Linked DNA regions of Homo sapiens: region 2 is linked to region 1. The links come from fine-mapping of genetic effects on plasma protein levels. A gene starts in region 1. The other region holds a variant in brackets. All regions are shown on one strand. Distances are from middle to middle.

Evidence for each region. PIP is the chance, under the fine-mapping model, that this variant and not a neighbour inherited with it causes the effect. Protein levels are from antibody-based Olink assays in UK Biobank. Linkage for the fine-mapping came from a reference panel and not from the study's own genotypes, which makes the PIPs less certain.
Region 2: its variant is fine-mapped to the plasma level of the ACP5 protein (UK Biobank, PIP above 0.99).

The regions. Positions count from the first base shown.
Region 1 is chr19:11,567,512-11,577,868 of GRCh38, reverse strand. ACP5 (acid phosphatase 5, tartrate resistant) reads left to right here and starts at 224. Exons shown (of 5, transcript NM_001611.5): 1 at 224-276; 2 at 552-812; 3 at 1,026-1,153; 4 at 1,281-1,626; 5 at 2,617-3,209. The coding sequence starts at 552. The coding sequence ends at 2,859. It overlaps LOC124904638 (a long non-coding RNA gene), which reads right to left and starts at 2,620. Exons shown (of 2, transcript XR_007067140.1): 1 at 2,516-2,620. RefSeq lists enhancers at 1-44, 1-125, 126-738, 9,447-9,536 and a silencer at 9,947-9,996.
Region 2 is chr19:11,620,573-11,631,158 of GRCh38, reverse strand. It overlaps the pseudogene VN2R12P. Among named protein-coding and RNA genes, the nearest start is that of ZNF627, 28 kb to the right of the region's middle. RefSeq lists an enhancer at 7,021-7,521. The variant A/G (reference allele first, on the strand shown) is at 6,461.

The DNA.
Region 1 (10,357 bases):
CTGCAGGTCCACCCGGAGGCTGTGTGGGCCGAGGCTGCTGCACACGTGTGCCCAGATCCTCCCACCCCCACCCCAATCCCGTGTCCTGCTCCAGGGAAGTCCAGGGCTCACATGACCCAAGGGGAGGGCTCCCGGGACAGCCCTCGGAGAAACTGCATCATCCTCACTAATGATCCACTTCCTCCTCAGGGAATAAAGGCTCAGGGACCGGCAGTTCTACTCTAGAGCCCACCAGCCTCTCAGAGCCTCCGGTGACTGGCCTGTGTCTCCCCCTGGGTGAGTGCTGGGCAGGCTAGGTGGAAGGAGGGTGAAATGGGCCTGCAGGGCCATCTTGGTACAGCTCGCCCTCTCACAGACCGCGCCCCCCTTCCCTAAGCCAGCTTGTGCAGCCTTGTGCAGCTTGTGTGTCCTGAGAATTAGGGCACCAAGGGGTTCCCGCAGGGGCAGCCTGCAGCAAGCAGTCTCCCTCTATCTCAGGGCAGGCGGGGGTCTCAAGGCCTCCCTGCCCTTGTCACAGCCCGGGCCACCTATGCTTGTCTCTCTTCTCCCAGATGGACATGTGGACGGCGCTGCTCATCCTGCAAGCCTTGTTGCTACCCTCCCTGGCTGATGGTGCCACCCCTGCCCTGCGCTTTGTAGCCGTGGGTGACTGGGGAGGGGTCCCCAATGCCCCATTCCACACGGCCCGGGAAATGGCCAATGCCAAGGAGATCGCTCGGACTGTGCAGATCCTGGGTGCAGACTTCATCCTGTCTCTAGGGGACAATTTTTACTTCACTGGTGTGCAAGACATCAATGACAAGAGGTTCCAGGTCTGTGCCCAACAGAGTGGGGCAGGAGGTGGGGGCGGGCAGTGGGGAGAAGCCGCCTTACCTAGTGACCTTCCTTTGGTGAGGGCAGAGGGAAGGTGATGGGGCACCTTTGGGCGCCGGGAGCATTCAGTGTCTCCCTTATCCTGACTTGGTGGGAGGATCGGCATAGCCACTGACCCCAGGGAAGAGGCCTGCCCTATCTGTTTGCTACAGGAGACCTTTGAGGACGTATTCTCTGACCGCTCCCTTCGCAAAGTGCCCTGGTACGTGCTAGCCGGAAACCATGACCACCTTGGCAATGTCTCTGCCCAGATTGCATACTCTAAGATCTCCAAGCGCTGGTGAGCCACCCTCAGCCCTGCCTTCCGAGATCCTCACATAGCAGGGACACAGGGGCCCTGTGGCTTGAGCTGACCCTGGGACTTCTGCGCCCAAGATGTGCACCCACGACCTCTATCCCCTCCACAGGAACTTCCCCAGCCCTTTCTACCGCCTGCACTTCAAGATCCCACAGACCAATGTGTCTGTGGCCATTTTTATGCTGGACACAGTGACACTATGTGGCAACTCAGATGACTTCCTCAGCCAGCAGCCTGAGAGGCCCCGAGACGTGAAGCTGGCCCGCACACAGCTGTCCTGGCTCAAGAAACAGCTGGCGGCGGCCAGGGAGGACTACGTGCTGGTGGCTGGCCACTACCCCGTGTGGTCCATAGCCGAGCACGGGCCTACCCACTGCCTGGTCAAGCAGCTACGGCCACTGCTGGCCACATACGGGGTCACTGCCTACCTGTGCGGCCACGATCACAATCTGCAGGTGAGGGCCCTGTGGGTGGGGTGGGAGCTGGGTGAGGGGGGTCCCCATCCCAGCTGATGTCCACATGGCTGGGGTCCTCCTGCTGTTTGAGGGTCTCCTGTGGCCTTCAGAATGTCTAGACTGTCCCTCAAATCTTGCTGTCTAACCAGGAAAACACTCCAAAGCCAGAATAATATCTTCGAATTGCCAATTTCTTTCTTTCTTTCTTTTTTAAGCTCTTTTTTTTTTTTTTTTTTGGAGACAAGGTTTCATTGTTTTTCACCCAGGCTGGAGTGCAGTGGTGCAATCGGGGCTTACTGCAGCTTCAATCTCCCGGGCTCAGGTGAACCTCCCACTTCAGCCTCCAGAGTAGCTGACACTACAGGCATGGGCCACCACATGCAGCTAATTTTTGCTTTTTTTTTTTTTTTTGAGAGGGAGTGCAGTGGCACGATCTCAACTCACTGCAACCTCCGCCTCCTGGGTTCAAGCAATTCTCCTGTCTCAGCCTCCCAAGTAGCTGGGATTACAAGCATGGGCCACCAAACCTTGCTAATTTTTATATTTTAGTAGAGACGGGGTTTCACCATGTTGGCCAGGCTGATCTCGAACTTCTGACCTCAAGTGATCTGCCCGCCTCGGCCTCCCAAAGTGCTGGGATTATAGGCATGAGCCACTGCACCTGGCCCTTGCGCATTTTTTTTGTAGAGGCAAGGTCTCACTATGTTGCCCAGGCTGGTCTCAAATTCCTGGGCTCAAGCAATCCACCCCCTCAGCCTCCCAAAGTGCTGGGATTACAGGCATGAGCCACCACACCTGGCCACCAATTTCTTACTAAGTGCTCTACCTATGAAATAGGATTAATACACTCCTAAAAGTCAGGAAATTGAAGCCAGGAGGGGTTACATACCTCAAGGTGACTCTGTGGTTAGGGCCAGATCGAGCCCTGGACCTTAGGCAGGGCTCTGCTCAAAGCTGGGTCTCCACTGACCCCTTGTCCTCCATCCTCAGTACCTGCAAGATGAGAATGGCGTGGGCTACGTGCTGAGTGGGGCTGGGAATTTCATGGACCCCTCAAAGCGGCACCAGCGCAAGGTCCCCAACGGCTATCTGCGCTTCCACTATGGGACTGAAGACTCACTGGGTGGCTTTGCCTATGTGGAGATCAGCTCCAAAGAGATGACTGTCACTTACATCGAGGCCTCGGGCAAGTCCCTCTTTAAGACCAGGCTGCCGAGGCGAGCCAGGCCCTGAACTCCCATGACTGCCCAGCTCTGAGGCCCGATCTCCACTGTTGGGTGGGTGGGCCCTGCCGGGACCCTGCTCACAGGCAGGCTTTTCCTCCAACCTGTGGCGCTGCAGCAGGGCAGGAAGGGGAAACACAGCTGATGAACTGTGGTGCCACATGACCCTTGTGGCACAGATGCCCACGTATGTGAAACACACATGGACATGTGTCCCAGCCACAGTGTTATGCTCTGTGGCTGGCTCACCTTTGCTGAGTTCCGGGGTGCAATGGGGGAGGGAGGGAGGGAAAGCTTCCTCCTAAATCAAGCATCTTTCTGTTACTGATGTTCAATAAAAGAATAGTTGCCAAGGCTGAACCAGTGCCACTGGTGTGTTATGTTCTCCTGGTTAGAGTGGCTGGGCTCCCCTGAGCTGCTGTTCCTTGCCTCCATCTCTTACCCCATCCATGACCAAGTTGCCTTATCCATGGATGTGATTATAAAACCCGGCCAGGCACGGTGGCTCACACCTGTAATCCCAGCACTTTGGGAGGCCGAGGTGGGCGGATCACGAGGTCAGGAGATCGAGACCATCCTGACTAACATGGTGAAACCCCGTCTCTACTAAAACTACAAAAAAATTAGCCAGGCGTGGCGGCGGGTGCCTGTAGTCCCAGCTACTTGGGAGGCTGAGGCAGGAGAATAGTGTGAACCCAGGAGGCGGAGCTTGCAGTGAGCCAAGATAGCGCCACTGCACTCCTGCCTGGGTGAAAGAGCGAGACTCCATCTCAAAAAAATAAAAAATAAAAAAAAAATAAAATCCAAGCAGAGGCCAGGCTCAGTGGTTCACATCTGTAATCCCAGCACTTTGGGAGGCCAAAGCGGGTGGATTATTTGAGGTCAGGAGTTCAAGATCAGCCTGGCCAGCATAGTGAAACCCCATGTCCACTAAAAATACAAAAAGTTAGTCAGGCTTGCTGGCGAGTGCCTGTAATCCCAGCTACTTGGGAGTCTGAGGCAGGAGAATCACTTGCATCTGGGAGGTGGAGGCTGCAGTGAGTCAAGATTGCGCCACTGCACTCCAGCCTGGGCAACAAGAGTTAAACTCTGCCTGAAAAAAAAAAATTGGCCAGTTGTGGTGGCAGGAGCCTATGGTCCTAGCTACTCAGGAGGCTGAGGCAGGAGAATTGCTTGAACCCAGGAGGCGGAGGTTGCAATGAGCTGAGATTGTGCCACTGTACTCCAGCCTGGGTGACAGAGCAAGAATCTGTCTCAAAAAAAATAAGTAAATAAAATAGGCCAGGCACGATGGCTCACACCTGTAATGCCAGCACTTTGCAAGGCCTAGGTGGTCGGATCACTTGAGGTCAGAAGTTCAAGACCAGCCTGGCCATCATGGTGAAACCCCATCTCTACTAAAAATACAAAACTTATCTAGGCGTGGTGACACATGACTGTAATCCCAGCTACTTGGGAGGCTGAGGCGAGAGAATCACTTGAGCCTAGGGGGTTTGCGGGTAAAGGGGGTGGAGAGGTGAGGGCGGAGATTGCAGTGAGCTGAGATTGTGCCACTGCACTCCAGCCTGGGTGATAGAGCAAGACTCTGTCTCAAAAAAAAAATTAATTCAATAAAATCCAAGCAGAAAGAAGGGTACAACATAAAGCAAGTCTTCCTCCACCCCAGGGGCAACTAATATTAATCATTTTCTTTCTCTATATAGTCTATGCCTCCATAATCAAAACATTCCCTTTATTATTTTCTTTTTTTTTTCTTTTTTTTTTTTTTTGAGATGGAGTCTCACTCTGTCACCAGGCTGGAGTGCAGTGGCGTGAGCTCGGCTCGCTGAAACCTCCAACTCCCAGATTCAAGCAATTCTCCTGGCTCAGCCTCCTGAGTAGCTGGGATTATAGGCACGCGCCACCACGCCCAGCTAATTTTTTTTTTTTTTTTTTTTTTTTTTGAGATGGAGTCTTGCTCTGTCGCCCAGGCTGGAGTGCAGCGGCGTGATCTCGGCTCACTGCAAGCTCTGCCTCCCGGGTTCACACCATTCTCCTGCCTCAGCCTCCCAAGTAGCTGGGATTACAGGCGTCTGCCACCACACCCGGCTCGTTTTTTGTATTTTTAAATAGAGATGGGGTTTCATCGTGTTAGCCAGGATGGTCTCAATCTCCTGACCTCGTGATCCGCCTGCCTCAGCCTCCCAAAGTGCTGGGATTACAGGAGTGAGCCACCGCGCCTGGCAATTTTTGTATTTTTAGTAGAGATGGGGTTTCACCATGTTGGCCAGGATGGTCCCAATCTCCTGACCTCATGACCTGCCCGCCTCAGCCTCCCAAAGTGTTGGGATTACAGGCGTGAGCCGCCGTGCCCGGCCTATTATTTCTTTAGGGAGAGGGGTCTTGCTATATTGTCCAGGCTGGAGTGCAGTGGTGCAATCATAGCTCCCTGCAGCCTCAAACTCCTGGGCTCAAGAAATCCTCCCACCCTAGCCTCTCAAGTAGCTAGGACTACAGGCACGCACCACCACTCCTAACTAATTTTTAGATTTTTTTTTTTTGTAGAGATGGGAGTCTTGTTCTGTTGCCCAAACCGGTCTTGTACTCCTGGGCTCAAGCAATCCTCCTGCCTCAGCCTCCGAAAGTGTTGGGATTACAGGCATGAGCTATTGCTTCCAGACTGTTTTTCAGAGACAGAGTTTTGCTATGTTGCCCAGGCTGGTCTTGAGCTCCTGGGCTCAAGTGATCCATCTCAGCCTCCCGAGTAGATGAGATTACAGGGGCATGCCACTGCAAACACATTCCCATTTTTTACACCAAAAGCAACACAATATACACATAGTTCTGCACACATTCCCGTTACTGCACTCCACTTTTTTTTTTTTCTTTTTTGAGATGGAGTCTCACTCTGTCACCCAGGCTGGAGTACATGGGTGTAATGTTGGCTCACTGCAACCTCCATCTCCTGGGTTCAACCGATTAAGCAATTCTCCTGCCTCAGCCTCCCAGGTAGCTGGGATTACAGGCCCCCACCACCATGCCTGGCTAATTTTGTATTTTTAGTAGAGACGGCATTTCACCATGTTGGTCAGGCTGGTCTTGAACTCCTGACCTCAGGTGATTCACCTGCCTTGGCCTCCCAAAGTGCTGGGATTACAGGCATGAGCCACTGTGCCCAGTCCTGAATTGTTTCTTGCATAAGATCCAAGAATGCTCTCTTGGGGTCTGGATCGAGACCCCTTTCCTGTAACACTTCGAACAATTTTGCAATCCTCAATGTCATAACAAATGACCTTGTCTACGCATTACCTATGGGGCAGACATGTTTGCAGGATTCCCAGGAACAAGGAAAAAGATCGCACTTCTTTTTGACAGCCACGAAGCTTCTGCCTTATGTCACTGGCTCCTTGCTAGTGCCCCTTGCAGGATTTTATTGGTTTTGGGGGTTGTTTTGAGAGACAGAATCTTGCTCTGTCACTCAGACTAGAGTGCAATGGCAGGATCATAGCTCACTGCAGCCTCAAATTCACAGGGTCAGGTGATCCTCCTGCCTCAACCTCCCAAAGTGCTGGGATTGCAGGCGTGAGCCAAAGTGCCAAAGTGCTCAGCCTCATTGAGGTTTTTTTTTTGAGATGGAGTCTCACTCCATCAGCCAGGCTGGAGTGCAGTGGCACGATCTTGGCTCACTGCAACCTCCGCCTCCCGGGTTCAAGCAATTCTCTGCCTCAGCCTCCCAAGTAGCTGGGACTACAAGCACACGCCACCATGCCCAGCTAATTTTTGTATTTCTAGTAGAGATGGGGTTTCGCCATCTTTGCCAAGCTGGTCTTGAACTCCTGACCTCATGATCCACCCACCTCGGCCTCTCAAAGTGCTGGGATTACAGGCGTGAGCCACCGCACCCAGCCGTGGTCTTTTTAAATCTTTCCTTCTAGGCCAGGCATGGTGGCTCACACCTGTAATCCCAACACTTTCAGAGGCCGAGGCAGGTGGATCACCTGAGGTCAGGAGTTTGAGACCAGCCTGACCAATATAGTGAAACCCCGTCTCTACTAAAAATACAAAAATTAGCTGGGCATGGTGGCGTGTGCTTGTAGTCCCAGCTACTTGGGAGGCTGAGGCAGAGAATTGCTTGAACCCGGGAGGCGGAGGTTGCAGTGAGCCGATATGACGCCACTGCACTCCAGACTGAGCAACAGAGCGAGACTCTTTCTCAAAATACATAAATAAATAAATAATTGTTTCCCTCTTACCAACAAGGCTGCAGTGGTGGTCCCTGGACCAATGCTGTGAAAGTAATGTGTAAGAAAACTTCTAGAAGGAGAATTATCTCAGGGCTGGGCACAGTGGCTCACACCTGTAATCCCAGCACTTTGAGAGGCTGAGGCAGGCAGATCACTTGAGGTCAGGAGTTGGAGACCAGCCTGGCCAACATGGTGAAACCCCATCCCTACTAAAAATACAAAAAATTAGCTGGGTATGGTGGCACGTGCCTGTAATCCCAGCTACTGAGGCTGATGCAGGAGAATCGCTTGAACCCAGGAGGCAGAGGTTGCAGTGAGCCGAGATCACACCACTGCAATCCAGCCTGGGAAACAGAATGAGACTCCGTTTCAGGGGAAAAAAAAAAAAAAAAAAATCTCAGGGCCTGTTTTTCTTATACTGAAAGCAGAGTGCTAGACCTGATGTGACAGTTGCAGGGGAGCCCAGTTCCCCTCTGAGGGAGAGTTAAGTAACACCCACCCCCAGGCAACCCAGGCCATTAGCGCTAGGCAAGGCACAGGAACCCCTCCTTTGGCCCACCCTCAACCGCCACTTGCAACTGCTACACGGCAGGGACCCAGTTGTTTGGCTCCAGCTGCCTGCCTAGCGGAGTGAAATGAATCTGGACAAAATGTAAACAGGGCTGAGTGCAGTGGCTCATGCCTGTAATCCCAGCACTTTGGTAGGTAGGGGCAGGCAGATCACTTGAGGACAGGAGTTCAAGACCAGCCTGGCCAATATGGCAAAAACCCACCTCTACTAAAAAATACAAAAGAATGAGTCAGGCCTGGTGATGCATGCCTATAATCCCAGCTATTTGGGAGGCTGAGGCATGAGAATCGTTCTTGTCTGGGAAGTGGAGGCTGCAGTGAGCTGTGATCACGCCACTGCACTCCAGTTTGGGAGACTATCTCAAAAAAAAAAAAAAGTAACTGAGGTTACTTCTGGGGAGAGGCACTTGGTGAAATTGTCACCTTTCATTTGTTATTTTACTTATTTTTTTTTTTTTGAGAAGAAGTTTCCCTCTTGCTGTCCAGGCTGGAGTGCAGTGACGTGATCTCAGCTCACAGCAACCTCTGCCTCCCAGATTCAAGCGATTCTCCTGCCTCAGCCTCCTGAGTAGCTGGGATTACAGGCATGCGCCACCACGCCTGGTTAATTTTGTATTTTTTAGTAGAGACAGGGTTTCTCCATGTTGGTCAGGCTGATCTTGAATTCCCGACCTCAGGTGATCCACCCGCCTAGGCCTCCCAAAGTGCTGAGATTACAGGCATGAGCTACTGCTCCGGCTTATTTGTTACTTTGCGCGCGCGCGTGTGTGTGTGTGTGTGTGTGTGTGTGTGTGTGTGTATCTTGGTATAATTTGCTACTTTATAGATGTCAATACTGTTGAATTTGTTACAAGGTGTATGTGTTACTGTTACAATTTTTTGGTTTTTTTTGAAACAGTGTCTCACTCTGTTGCCCAGGCTGGAGTGCAATGGTGTAATCATAGCTCACTGCAGTTTCCACCTCCTGAGCTCAAGGGATCCTCCTGCCTCTGCCTCCTGAGTGGCTGGGACCACAGCTTCACCCCACCACTCTTGGTTAATTTTGTGTGTGTGTGTTTTGTAGAGATGGGGTCTTGCTATGTTGCCTAGGCTGGTCTCAAACTCCTGACCTCAAGTGATTCTTCCTCCTTAGCCTCCCAAAATGCAGGATTACAGGTGTGAGCCATCATGTCTGGCCAACTGTTATAATTAAGCAGTGATCTTTCCAAAATGCAATCCTGGCCAGGGGTGGTGGCTCACACCTGTAATCCCAACACTTTGGGAGGCTGAGGCGGGCAGATCACTTGAGATCAGGAGTTCGAGACCAGCCTGATCAACATGGCAAAACGCTGTCTCCATTAAAAATACAAAAATTAGCTGGCATTGTGGCGGGCGCCTGTAATTCCAGCTACTCAGGAGGCTGAGACAGGAGAATCACTTGAACCCAGGAGGTGGAGGTTGCAGTGGGCCGAGGTCGTACCACTGCACTCCAGCCTGGGCAACAGAGCAAGACTCTGTCTCAAGCAAACAAACAAATCCCCAAAATGTAATCCTGAGTTTGTTCCAGCTGCCATTTACCGTCACTTCTGATCCTGGCCCATGAGGCAGGGGCCAGAATCATCCTTGCTTCTCAGAGGCTATTACAGAAGCTCAGACGTGTTTTTGTGGGTTTTTATTTTTTAATTTTTTTTGGTACAATATTTATCTTAGATTGGACGGCTTAACCACTGTGACCAAGGTAATTTCTAGGAAGTGGCAGTCCCTCAATCTTAACCACAACAGTCTAGGGAGGTCACAGCCGCGCTCTTCTCACTGACTCAGAGGCACCAGACAGGCAGGAGTCTGAATCAGAGGTCACCATCATAGCCCAAGGACCCCGTTCTCATGGCCCAGAGCACAGAAAGAAGAAGTGACACATCCAATGTCACACGAAGACTGAGTGGCAGGGGAGGGGGGATTGTAACTCAGGCTCCCTCCTCTACATCAGCCAGACACTTCTACCGAGCACCAAGGACCAAAGCTCTGTGCCAGGCAGCTGGGGACCCAAGGACACTAGGAGGAATAAATCAGGGTGGGCGCTGGCCCTCAGGGAGCTTCTGTCTTGCTGAGGAGACAACACCAGCCAGCACTCAGCCATCTTAATTAATTATTTTATTTTTTTCTTTACTTTTCTGTTTTTTAGACAGGGTCTCACTCTGTTGCCCAGGCTGTCAGGCTGGAGTACAGTAGTGTGATCACAGCTCACTGCAACTTCCGTCTCCGGGGCTCAAGCAATCCTCCCTCCCACCTAAGCCTCCTGAACAGCTGGGACTACAAGCACACACCACCACACCTGGCTAATTTTTTTTTTTTTTTTTTTTTTTTTTTTTTTTGAGACGGAGTCTCGCTCTGTCACCCAGGCTGGAGTACAGTGGCGCAGCCTCGGCTCACTGCAAGCTCCGCCTCCCGGGTTCACGCCATTCTCCTGCCTCAGCCTCTCCGAGTAGCTGGGACTACAGGCGCCCGCCACCACGCCCGGCTAATTTTTTTTTTTTTTTTTTTTTTAGTAGAGACGGGGTTTCACCGTGAGACAGAGTCTTGCTCTGTCGCCAGGCTGGAGTGTAGTGGCCTGATCTTGGCTCACTGCAACCTCCACCTCCCAGGTTCAATTGATTCTCCTGCCTCAGCCTCCCGAGTAGCTGGGACTACAGGTAAGTGCGCCACCATGCCCAGCTAATTTTGTATTTTTAGTAGAGA
Region 2 (10,586 bases), 53 kb before region 1:
CTCTATATTGTTTATTAATCCCTTGTCAGATGGATTGTTTGCAAATGTTTTCTCCCATTTTGTGGGTTGTCTCTTCACTTTGTTGACTGTGACTGTTTCTTTTGCTGTACAGAAATTTTTTTTTGTTTTTTTTTCTGAGACAGGGGTTTGCTCTGTCTCTCAGGCTGGAGTGCAGTGGTGCCATCTTGACTCACTGCATCCCTGACCTCCTGGGCTCAAGTGATTCTCCCACCTCAGCCTCCCAAGTAGCTGGGACTACAGGTGCATACCACCACACCTGGCTAATCTTTTGTATTTTTTGTAGAGATGGGATTTTTTCATGTTGTCTTGAACTCCTGGGCTCAGCCTCTGAAAGTGCTGGGATTACAGGCATGAGCTACTGCGCCTGGCCTATTCTTCCCTCTCCTTTCCTCCAGCAGCAGGAATCTCTCCCCATAGCCACCACAGGTAGAAAGGTGCTGGGTCACACCTGAAGCCAGTACAGCTCTAAGTCTTACCCAAGGCCCATACAAGTACAGCCTGGCTACCCCTGCTGATCACTCAGGGCCCAGGGGTTCAGAAGGTGATGAATTCTGCCAGGACTGGGTCCTTCTTTTCAAGGCAGTAGGTTCCCTTCTGGCCCAGGGTGTATCTAGAAATGTCCAGGAGCTAGGGCCTGGAATAGAGGCCTCACGCCTCTGCCTGGTGCCCTATTATACTGTTGCTGAGCTTGCATCCAAGTTGCAATATAAGTCCTCTTTACTCTCCCCTTTCTTCTCAAGTAGAAGGAAGTAGTCTCTCCCTGAGCTGCTGGCTGTACTGCCTGGGGTCAGGAGAGTGGTGGCACAAGTATTCCCTTTGCCACCCCAGCTAGTGTCTCACTAGGTCATGTGCACACCAAGTCCGCTGGGTCCAAGCCCACCCAACACCAAGACTTACACAGGAATTGCAGTCCTTGTGATCCTGACTACCTTTCAAGTTTCTTCAGGACACCAGAACATTTTAGCCCACGGTGACAGGGCTTGCCAGAACTCAGGTTCTGGCAATTGGGATGGACAATTCAACTCTGGCTAAGGCTGATCTAAACGCTCCCTCCATGGGCACTGGCTGAGTTCTGCCCCATATTGCTTTCTGCTAATGACAGGGCAGCACTGAGTTCCAATGCAAAGTGCCACAATCACTGCGCTCTCCCTCTCCCAAGCTTACAGATTCACTCTCTATGCCATTTGGCCTCTGCGAGAGGATGGGAAAGTGGTGGCATAGGCAATTCAAGGCTGCTTTCCCACCCTCTTCCGTGCCTCTTTACTTAATATAAGACCAGGCACTGTGATTGCACAGCTGATGTTTGGTTCTTCTTCTTCTTCTCCTCTTTCTTCTCCTTTCTTCTTCTTCTTCTTCTCCTTCTCCGTCTCCTTCTTCTTCTCTTTTTTGATACAGAGTCTCACTCTGTCACCCAGGCTGGAGTGCAGTGGCACGATCTCGGCTCACTGCAACCTCCACCTCCCGGGTTCAAGCGATCCTCCTGCCTCAGCCTCCTGAGTAGCTGGGATTACAGGTGCACACCACCATGCCCAGCTAATTTTGTATTTTTTACTAGAGACGGTGTTTCACCATATTGGCCAAGCTGGTCTTGAACTCCTGACCTCGTGATTTGCCTGCCTCAGCCTCCCAAACTGCTGGGATTACCGGTGTGAGCCACTGCGCCCAGCCTAAGTTACTTTTTGTGTGGATAGCTGTTCAATTTGGTGTTCTTGTTGGGGGAACAATCACTGGAGGGTTCTATTTGGCCATCTTGCTCCTCCTGCTTCTGTATCACTTTTGACCATGGTTTTACCTATATGGTAGGTAAAAGATCCAGCCAGGTGTGATGGCTCACGCCTGTAATCCCAGCACTTTGGGAGGCTGAGGCGGGAGGATCACCTGAGGTCAGGAGTTCGAGACCAGCCTCAATATGGAGAAACCCCGTCTCTACTAAAAATACAAAATTAGCCGGGCATGGTGGTGCATGCCTGTAATCCCAGCTACTCGGGAGGCTGAGGCAGGAAAATTGCTTGAACCCAGGAGGCAGAGACTGCAGTCAGCCAAGATCACGCCATTGTACTCCAACCTGGGCAACAAGAGTGAAACTCTGTCTCAAAAAAAAAAAAAAAAAAAAGAAAGAAACTCAGGGAGACAGACAGTAAGTGAAAGGAAAGAATAAAATAACCTCTGCTCACATTTGAAATTATTAAGTTCTTTTCAATAAAATTTCATGCTGTAGTAAATGAACTGGATGTAATTTTTTGGTACAGGAATGAATTCACAAATTTTTCCTTGAAAATAAAAATGTTTTCAACCTAAGGTCATTTATCCTAAAAATTGTTCTTTTTGACTTTGCTTTATTAAAAACTGCAAATATAAAACATCTCAGGTGTGGTTACTCATGCCTGTAATCCTAGCACTATGGGGGGCCTAGATGGGATGATCGCTTAATGCCAGGAGTTCCAGACCGGCCTGGTCAACATACTAAGGCTCCATCTCTATTTTTTTTTTTTTAACGTATATCTAAAAAGGCAATTTTCACATCTCAAGAACGGAAGCACTTCTGAGGCTGGGCACAGTGGCTCATACCTGTAATCCCAGCACTTTGGGAGGCCACAGCAGGCGGATCACATGGGGTCTGGAATTTGAGACCAGCCTGGCCAACATGGTGAAACCTCATCTCTACCAAAAATTCAAAAATTAGTCAGGAGTGGTGGCACACGCCTATAATTCCAGCTACTCAGGAGACTGAGGCACGAGAATCGCTTGAATCTGGTAGGCGGAGGTTGCAGTGAGCCGAAATCACGCCACTGCACTCCAGCCTGGGTGACAGAGCGAGACTGTTAAAAAAAAAAAAGCCGGGCGCGGTGGCTCAAGCATGTAAGTAATCCCAGCACTTTGGGAGGCCGAGGGGGGCAGATCACGAGGTCTGGAGATCGAGACCATCCTGGCTAACACGGTGAAACCCCGTCTCTACTAAAAATACAAAAAATTAGCCGGGCGTGGTGGCGGGCGCCTGTAGTCCCAGCTACTCGGGATGCTGAGGCAGGAGAATGGCGTGAACCCGGGAGGCGGAGCTTGCAGTAAGCGGATATCGCGTCACTGCACTCCAGCCTGGGCGACAGAGCAAGACTCCGTCTCAAAAAAAAAAAAAAAAAGAAAAGAAAAGAAAAAAAAGGCTGGGCGCGGTGGCTCATGCCTGTAATCCCAGCGCTTTGGGAAGCTGAGGCGAGCGGATCACGAGGTCAAGAGATGGAGATCATCCTGGCCAACACGGTGAAACCCGTCTCTACTAAAACTACAAAAATTAGCTGCGCCTGGTGGCGCATGCCTGTAATCCCAGCTACTTGAGAGGCTGTGGCAGGAGAATCGTTTGAACCCAGGAGGCGGAGGTTGCAGTGAGCTGAGATCACACCACTGCACTCCAGCCTGGGCAACAAGAGCGAAACTCCGTCTCAAAAAAAAAATAAAATAAAATAAATTGAAGCATTTCTCATAACCAGAATACCATAGTCACACCTACTAATTTCCTAATATTAGCTGACAGCATGACACTGGAATCTCATAAATTATATAAACAATTTAAAAAATATTTTGTAGAGACACAGTCTGACTATATTGCCCGGCTGGTCTTGAAGTCTTGGCCTCAAGGGATTCTGCTGCCTTGGCCTTCCATTGCATATGGAAACGCAAAGTGGAAATGTTATCCATTTAACATAAAAGACAACATAACCTTAAAAATATGTGTGACATTCCCTATCCATAGCTCTGTCTGCAGCCAGAATGAAGAATGAGTCCTAGATTGCCAAAATAACTTTTAATTCTAAATTGTTGAAACTTACAAACTGCAGCGTTGCTTTTCTTTTTTCTTTTCTTTTCTTTCTTTCTTTCTTTTTTTTTTTTTTTTTTTTTTTTTTTTTTGGAGACAGAATTTCGCTTTTGCCCAGGCTGGAGTGCAATGGCGTGATCACAGCTCACCGCAACCTCCACCTCCAGAGTTCAAGCGATTCTCCTGTCTCAGCCTCCCAAGTAGCGGGGATTACAGGTATGCGCAACCACACCTGGCTAATTTTGTATTTTTAGTAGAGGCGGGGTTTCTCCATGATGGTCAGTGCAGGGAGCCAAAGGCCGCTGGGACACGACAAACTCAGCATTCCGCAGGAGTCTATATGATCAAACAGCAAACTGTTTATCATGAATGCAGGTTGTGGGCAAACTCACACTGCCCTGCCACCAAAAGGTTTGCTGAGGGACATCACTCCCTGGCACCGGGCTCCTTGAAGTTATCTACTGAGAAAATTAGTGCCTATTGTCCAAAGGATGCAGTCTCACAAGCCTGCTGTGAACCAAACAGAACCAAACGGCCAACTGACAATTACCCGACAATCACTCCCTCTTTTCTCACTATCCCTTTGGCCTAATAAATACGGAGGACTGTGTAAAGCTCGGGGCCCTTGTCCACTAGAGGCAAGGTGCTGCCCCCATCCCTTCTTCCAAATATACTCTTTTGTCTCTTGTCTTTTATTCCCACGTTCGCCCCCCTTTGTTCAGTCCCCCTAGGTCCGTGCAGGTTACACAGTGGCACCCCAAACAGCGACAGGATCGGAAGCTCTATAAGTGGCACTCGAACAGGCGGCAGTCCAAACACGGGACTATGAGGACGTGAACGAAGAAGGTCTGCTGGAGTAGAGGAACTGAAATTGACAAGACGCACGGGGACTCCGGGATGAGTCTGCCGATAGCGTATGTAAGGTCAGTGCCCTAAAGAAGTACTGGGGGCAGTGCTTTAAAGAAGTACTGGGAAGGGGAAGTTTTCTGAATCAGGTTAACAAGGGGAAGAATTTGTCTACTGAAGAAAAACATTATGTGCACTTGCTTAAGTTTCTGTTGAGACAGTCTGGAGCTCAGGTTAATTCGCAGGCACTAACTAACCTCCTGCAGAAGCCACAAATGGTTATTCACGCATCACCCATGGTTTCCACAGGCAGGCACTCTTGATGCGGAAAATTGGGACAGAGCAGGAGAAGGATTAAAACAGGCTCATCAAAAAGGTTTTAAAGTTGATTCTTCAGTTTTCTCCACTTGGAGTTTAGTTCATACTGTACTTCTGCCATTAGCTCCTTATTATTCTGCGGGACAGCAGGCTGAGTCTAAAAATCTGAAAGAATCTGTTGTCCCACCCACAGCGCCAACTGAAAATAAAAAACAGGTGAGGGAGGATAAAAATTGGCCTATACCGCCTCCTCCAATCGCAGAAACATCTGTACTGCCTCCTTCAGTAGCAGAAATAGAGACCCCAAAACAAACAACTTTATGCTCTGCTGCCATAGCTGGAGAGCCCTTAGGACCTTGCACTTTTCCTATTTCCGTAAGGCCCGATTCAAATAATCCACAGCAGTTTATTCATGAACACACCCCACTAGAATTTAAGTTGTTGAAGGAATTAAAAACTAGTGTGGTCAATAATGGAGTACATAAGCCCATGGTTCCCGGAAGAAGGAACGCTAGGCTTAGAACTCTGGGAATGAGTGGGGAGAAATCTTGAACAACATCAGGTGCAAAGGCATCAGGTCCCAGTAAAATCTTTAACGTTATGGGCTTTAATTAGAGCAGTCCTGGCTCAGTTTACACACAGAAGAGCCTAAAAAGAGGAAGGAGGAGAAAACGTCACCTGCCTTATCACCTTCTCTTCCCTCAGCCCCAATATCACTGGGCCAAAAATAACAAAGAGGAAACAGAGGTCTTACCTAAGCCTCCTCCTCCAATAGATAGGAAAAAGGACAGAGGATACGCTACAGCTATCAGTCCCTGTCTTGAGCAGGCAGCATTAGAAGGAGAGCTCTTAACCTGCTCAGTAATGCAAAATCGGCAAGGCAAGCAGGTGTATGTCTGTAAAAAGATAAGAAAGGCCGGGCGAGGTGGCTCATGCCTGTAATCCCAGCACTTTGGGAGGCTGAGGCGGGCAGATCACCTGAGGTGGGCAGATCACCTGAGGTCGGGAGTTCGAAACCAGCCTGAGCAACATGGAGAAACCCTGTCTCTACTAAAAATACAAAATTAGCCGGGCGTGGTGGCAAGTGCCTGTAATCCCAGCTACTCGGGAGGCTGAGGCAGGAGAATCGCTTGAACTTGGAAGGCGGAGGTTGCGGTGAGCCGAGATCGCGCCATTGCACTCCAGCCTGGGCAACAAGAGCAAAAACTCCGTCTCAAAAAAAAAGAAAGAAAAAAGGCATTAGAAGCCGAAACCGCGCGACCAAGCAAGCGGTGGGCGGAATAGAAGGTTCAGCAGCAGAAAAGCTGGCAGCGACCAAGCCCACAAGGTCCGCCCAGGCTGGCAGCATGCCCCACCCCCGGCAAAGGAGGGAGGGAGCGGCGCAGACACAGGCAAAACCTGAGCAAGTACAATGCGGCCGCCGCCAAGGACCTGCACCGCAGCCCTCTGGCTCTGTGAGCAGCCCAT[A/G]GCAAAAGTTCATGTGTTACGTACGTCCCAGACTATGATTCTCTGCTAAGATTTAAGTAAAATGTAAGAATTTGAAAAACCTCTTTTCTAATAATGGCCACTGTTATCTCTCTCCTACCCCTAAGGTAGCTTTCCAAATTCAATTTAAGTAAAACAGTAACCTCTGAAGGGAAAGAGATTACAGAGGGCCCACGAATTCATTAATGAGTAATTAAAAGCTAGGCATGTAAAACCACACATTACCCTTTAAAGGAGAACTTTAAACCTAATTAAATGATATTTGTCAAATTAGAAGGTAAAAATGTTGTGTCCTTCTCAGAAAGTGAAGAAAAGTTGTAAGTGTAGTGAAAACTTATGCATGAATGACTGTCTTACCCACTGATTACAGATAGTGTGATTTGTACTTGCTAAAAGAGTCCTAAATTGAGTTCCCCAGCCAGTGAGTCACTGTTTTCAAGACTGTTTGCCAGATTAAAGTCCATAAACTTGGTCAGCCCAAAAACTCAATTACAAGATTTAAGCTATTCCGCCCGTGGTTTTAAGCACATGGTTAAAGTATATCATTTAAGTCTCTGCTTCTAGAGACGCGTTCAGATTTTCTTTTTAAACTTATTACTATTTCAGCTAGCAATCTTAATGATTAATGCAGTCCAAATGCTAAGTTATGACCCTCATATCATCAGGATTCGTTTAAGTAAAAGGCAATTCGAAGCGGTATTTCACTCCCCCATACCTAAGGCTTTAACACGGTTTACTGATGGGTCTGGTAAACATGGAAAAGCAGCAGGCTAGTAGAGACCACATAATTCAATCACTCGATCTGAGTTTACTAGCACTCAGAGAGCTAAGGTTACTCTGTTTATTTATTTATTTATTTATTTTTGAGACGGAGGCTCGCTCTGTCGCTCAGTCTGGAGTGCAGTGGTGCGATCTCCACTCACTGCAAGCTCCGCCTCCCGGGTTCACGCCATTCTCCTGCCTCAGCCTCCCGAGTAGCTGGGACTACAGGCACCTGCCACCGCGCCCGGCTAATTTTTTGTATTTTTAGTAGAGACGGGGTTTCGCTGTGTTAGCCAGGATGGTCTGGATCTCCTGACCTCGTGATCCGCTCGCCTCGGCCTCCCAAAGTGCTGGGATTACAGGCGTGGGCCACCGCGCCCGTCCTATCAGGTTACTCTGTTTATTTATTAAAGAACTTTTACAACTTTAAGCTTGCTCTGGACTTTGCAGCCTTATGTTGCAAATATAGCCATCAATTTATGGGGTCGAGACTTACAGCATGGGATAGGAGACTTACAAATGAAAACTTTGATAATCCAGGATTTAAAATGTTGAAGAACATGGGATATCAGAGTGAAAAAGGTTTAGGGAAATTTCTACAATGAAATCCTAACCCGATATCAGTAACTGGAAAAACAGATAGAAAAGGGCTAGGACACAAGGATTTCTGACGGGGGGGTCATTGATATTTGATATTTCTCCTTTGCCCACTGCCTTACCATTAGAATGGCTCAGTGACAAACCTGTGTGGGTGGATCAATGGCCCCTATCACAAAAGAAGCTAGATGAACTTCATCTGTTGGTAAAAGAGCAATTGAACACAGGACATATAGAAAAGTCAGTTAGCAGGCCGGGCGCGGTGGCTCACGCCTGTAATCCCAGCACTTTGGGAGGCCCAAGCGGGAGGATCACGAGGTCAGGAGATCGAGACCATCCTGGCTAACACAGTGAAACCCCGTCTCCACTAAAAATACAAAAAAAATAGCTGGGCATGGTTGCAGGCGCCTGTAGTCCCAGCTACTTGGGAGGCTGAGGCAGGAGAATGGCATGAACCCGGGAGACAGAGCTTTACTCCAGCGTGGGCGACAGAGCGAGACTGTCTCAAAAAAAAAAAGAAAAGTCAGTTAGCCCCTGGAATTCTCCAGTATTTGTGATTCCAAAAAGGTCCCAAAACAATAACGACCTCTGGGGTTTCAGCTCAACATTCAGAGCTAACTGCAGTCATTCAGGTTTTACAGCTCACAGCTTCAGATCCTATCAACATTGTCTGTGATTCAGCTTATGTTGTAAATGTAGCCAGTCGCGTAGAAACTGCTACAGTTAAAAGTACACTAGACCCAGAACTGCTTAATTTATTTCACTTATTCTCAAATGCTGCATGCTACATGCCAAACAGGTGAGACAGCTGGTCATGTATGGTGACATCATCTGTCATCATTTGCTCATATGGGAATACCTAAACAATTAAAAACTAACAATGGACCCACTTATACTGGCCATGCTTTTCAAAATTTCTTACAGCTTTGGGCTATAACCCATAAAATAGAAATTCCTTATAATCCTAGAGGACAAGGCATTATAGAGCAGGCACATCAAACATTACAACACATGTTGAAAAAACAAAAAGGGGGTATAGGAGGCCACTTACCACCTCAATCAGAACTTTTTATTATTTTTATTTACTTTAAATTTTTTTGGCTCCTGGTCCGGATGGTAAGACTCCAGCAGAAAGACATTGACAAGTGTTAGAGGAAAAGAGGAAAGTTTATCTGAAAGTGTTATGGAAATCCCTGGAAGAAGGACAATGGAAAAGTCCGGTGGATTTACTGACATGGGGAAGAGAGCATGCTTGTGTTTCTACAGGAGATGGGCACACCGTTTGGGTGCCCTCAAGGTGTGTGCGACCATGAACGGGAGACGGGAGGAACCCAGGGTGGCCAACCATGGGCCCGGTCCCTCCAGTACGAGCCATGAGCCAGCTGAGCCTGGGTGCAAAGAGAGAGAGAAGGCCTAACAGAGTCACAACACAGTTCTAATGCTATGTTTTCTGTAAAATCAGATGGACCGCCAATCGGACAATGAGAGCTGCTCAGCCTGGCCTTACATTCTTTCAATTAATACATAAACAAAAAGGGGGATATGCAGGGAGCCGAAGGCCCGTGGGACGTGACCAACTCAGCATTCCGCAGGAGTCTATATGGGATCAAACAGCAAACTGTTTATCATGAATGCAGGATGTGGGCAAACTCACTGCCCTGCCACCAAAAGGTTTGCTGAGGGACATCACTCCCTGGCACTGGGCTCCTTGAAGTTATCTACTGAGAAAATTAGTGCCTATTGTCCAAAGGATGCAGTCTCACAAGCCTGGTGTGAACCAAATGGCCAACTGACAATTACCCAACAATCACCCCCCGCTTTTCTCGCTCTTTTGTCTAATAAATACAGAGGGCTGTGTAAAGCTCGGGGCCCTTGTCCACTAGAGGCAAGGTGCCCCCCAACCCCTTCTTCCAAATATACTCTTTTGTCTCTTGTCTTTTATTCCTGTGTTTGCTCCCGTTTGTTCAGTCCAATAGGTCCAAGGCGGGTCAGGCTGGTCTCGGACTCCTGACCTCAGGTGATCTGCCCACCTCAGCCTCCCAAAGTGCTGGGATTAGAGGCGTGAGCCACTGCGCCCAGCCGGCATTGCTTTTCTAATCAGATGAAGAACAGTGTATGCTGTCAACAGAGCATCAGGACTCAAACAGAAAGCCACATCACTGCCTTCCAAAAGTGGTGGCCCTCTGGTTTATGAACACTCTTTGGGCCTGTGCTACAATGTCCTCTCTGGGGTGTTTGTGAAGCATCAAGATACTCCCACAGTCAAGGCCAATAATCAGGCTCAGCTGTGTCCTGTTCATCTCCCTCACCCTGTGCTTCCAGTGTCCCCTACCTTCACTGGTCATCCCCACACAGCACCTGCATCCCAACACAGCACCTGCATCCCGGGCAAAATCACATTTGGAGTCGTGTTGATGGTGGGGTTTCTACTCTGTGGCCCACACTATCACTGTGGGTGTTGCCTTCAAGGGAGAAGGACTCAGTGGTTGGATTCAGTAGCACCTAACTCTGTATTGCCCTCTCTAATCCAAATGACTGTAGAATCTGACAGGCAATGACTCCACCCTTCACTCATGTGAATACATTATCTGGGGCTGAATATGTCATCTCCACATACAGTCATGGTTTGGTTGCTGATTGCTACTCTATCCTGTGATACCTGGGCTTTTGACACTGAGAAGTTTCAACAGGGATTTTCTCAACAAGAGCTTGCTGGACACCTTCAACGAAGTGATTGGATTGTTCCGTG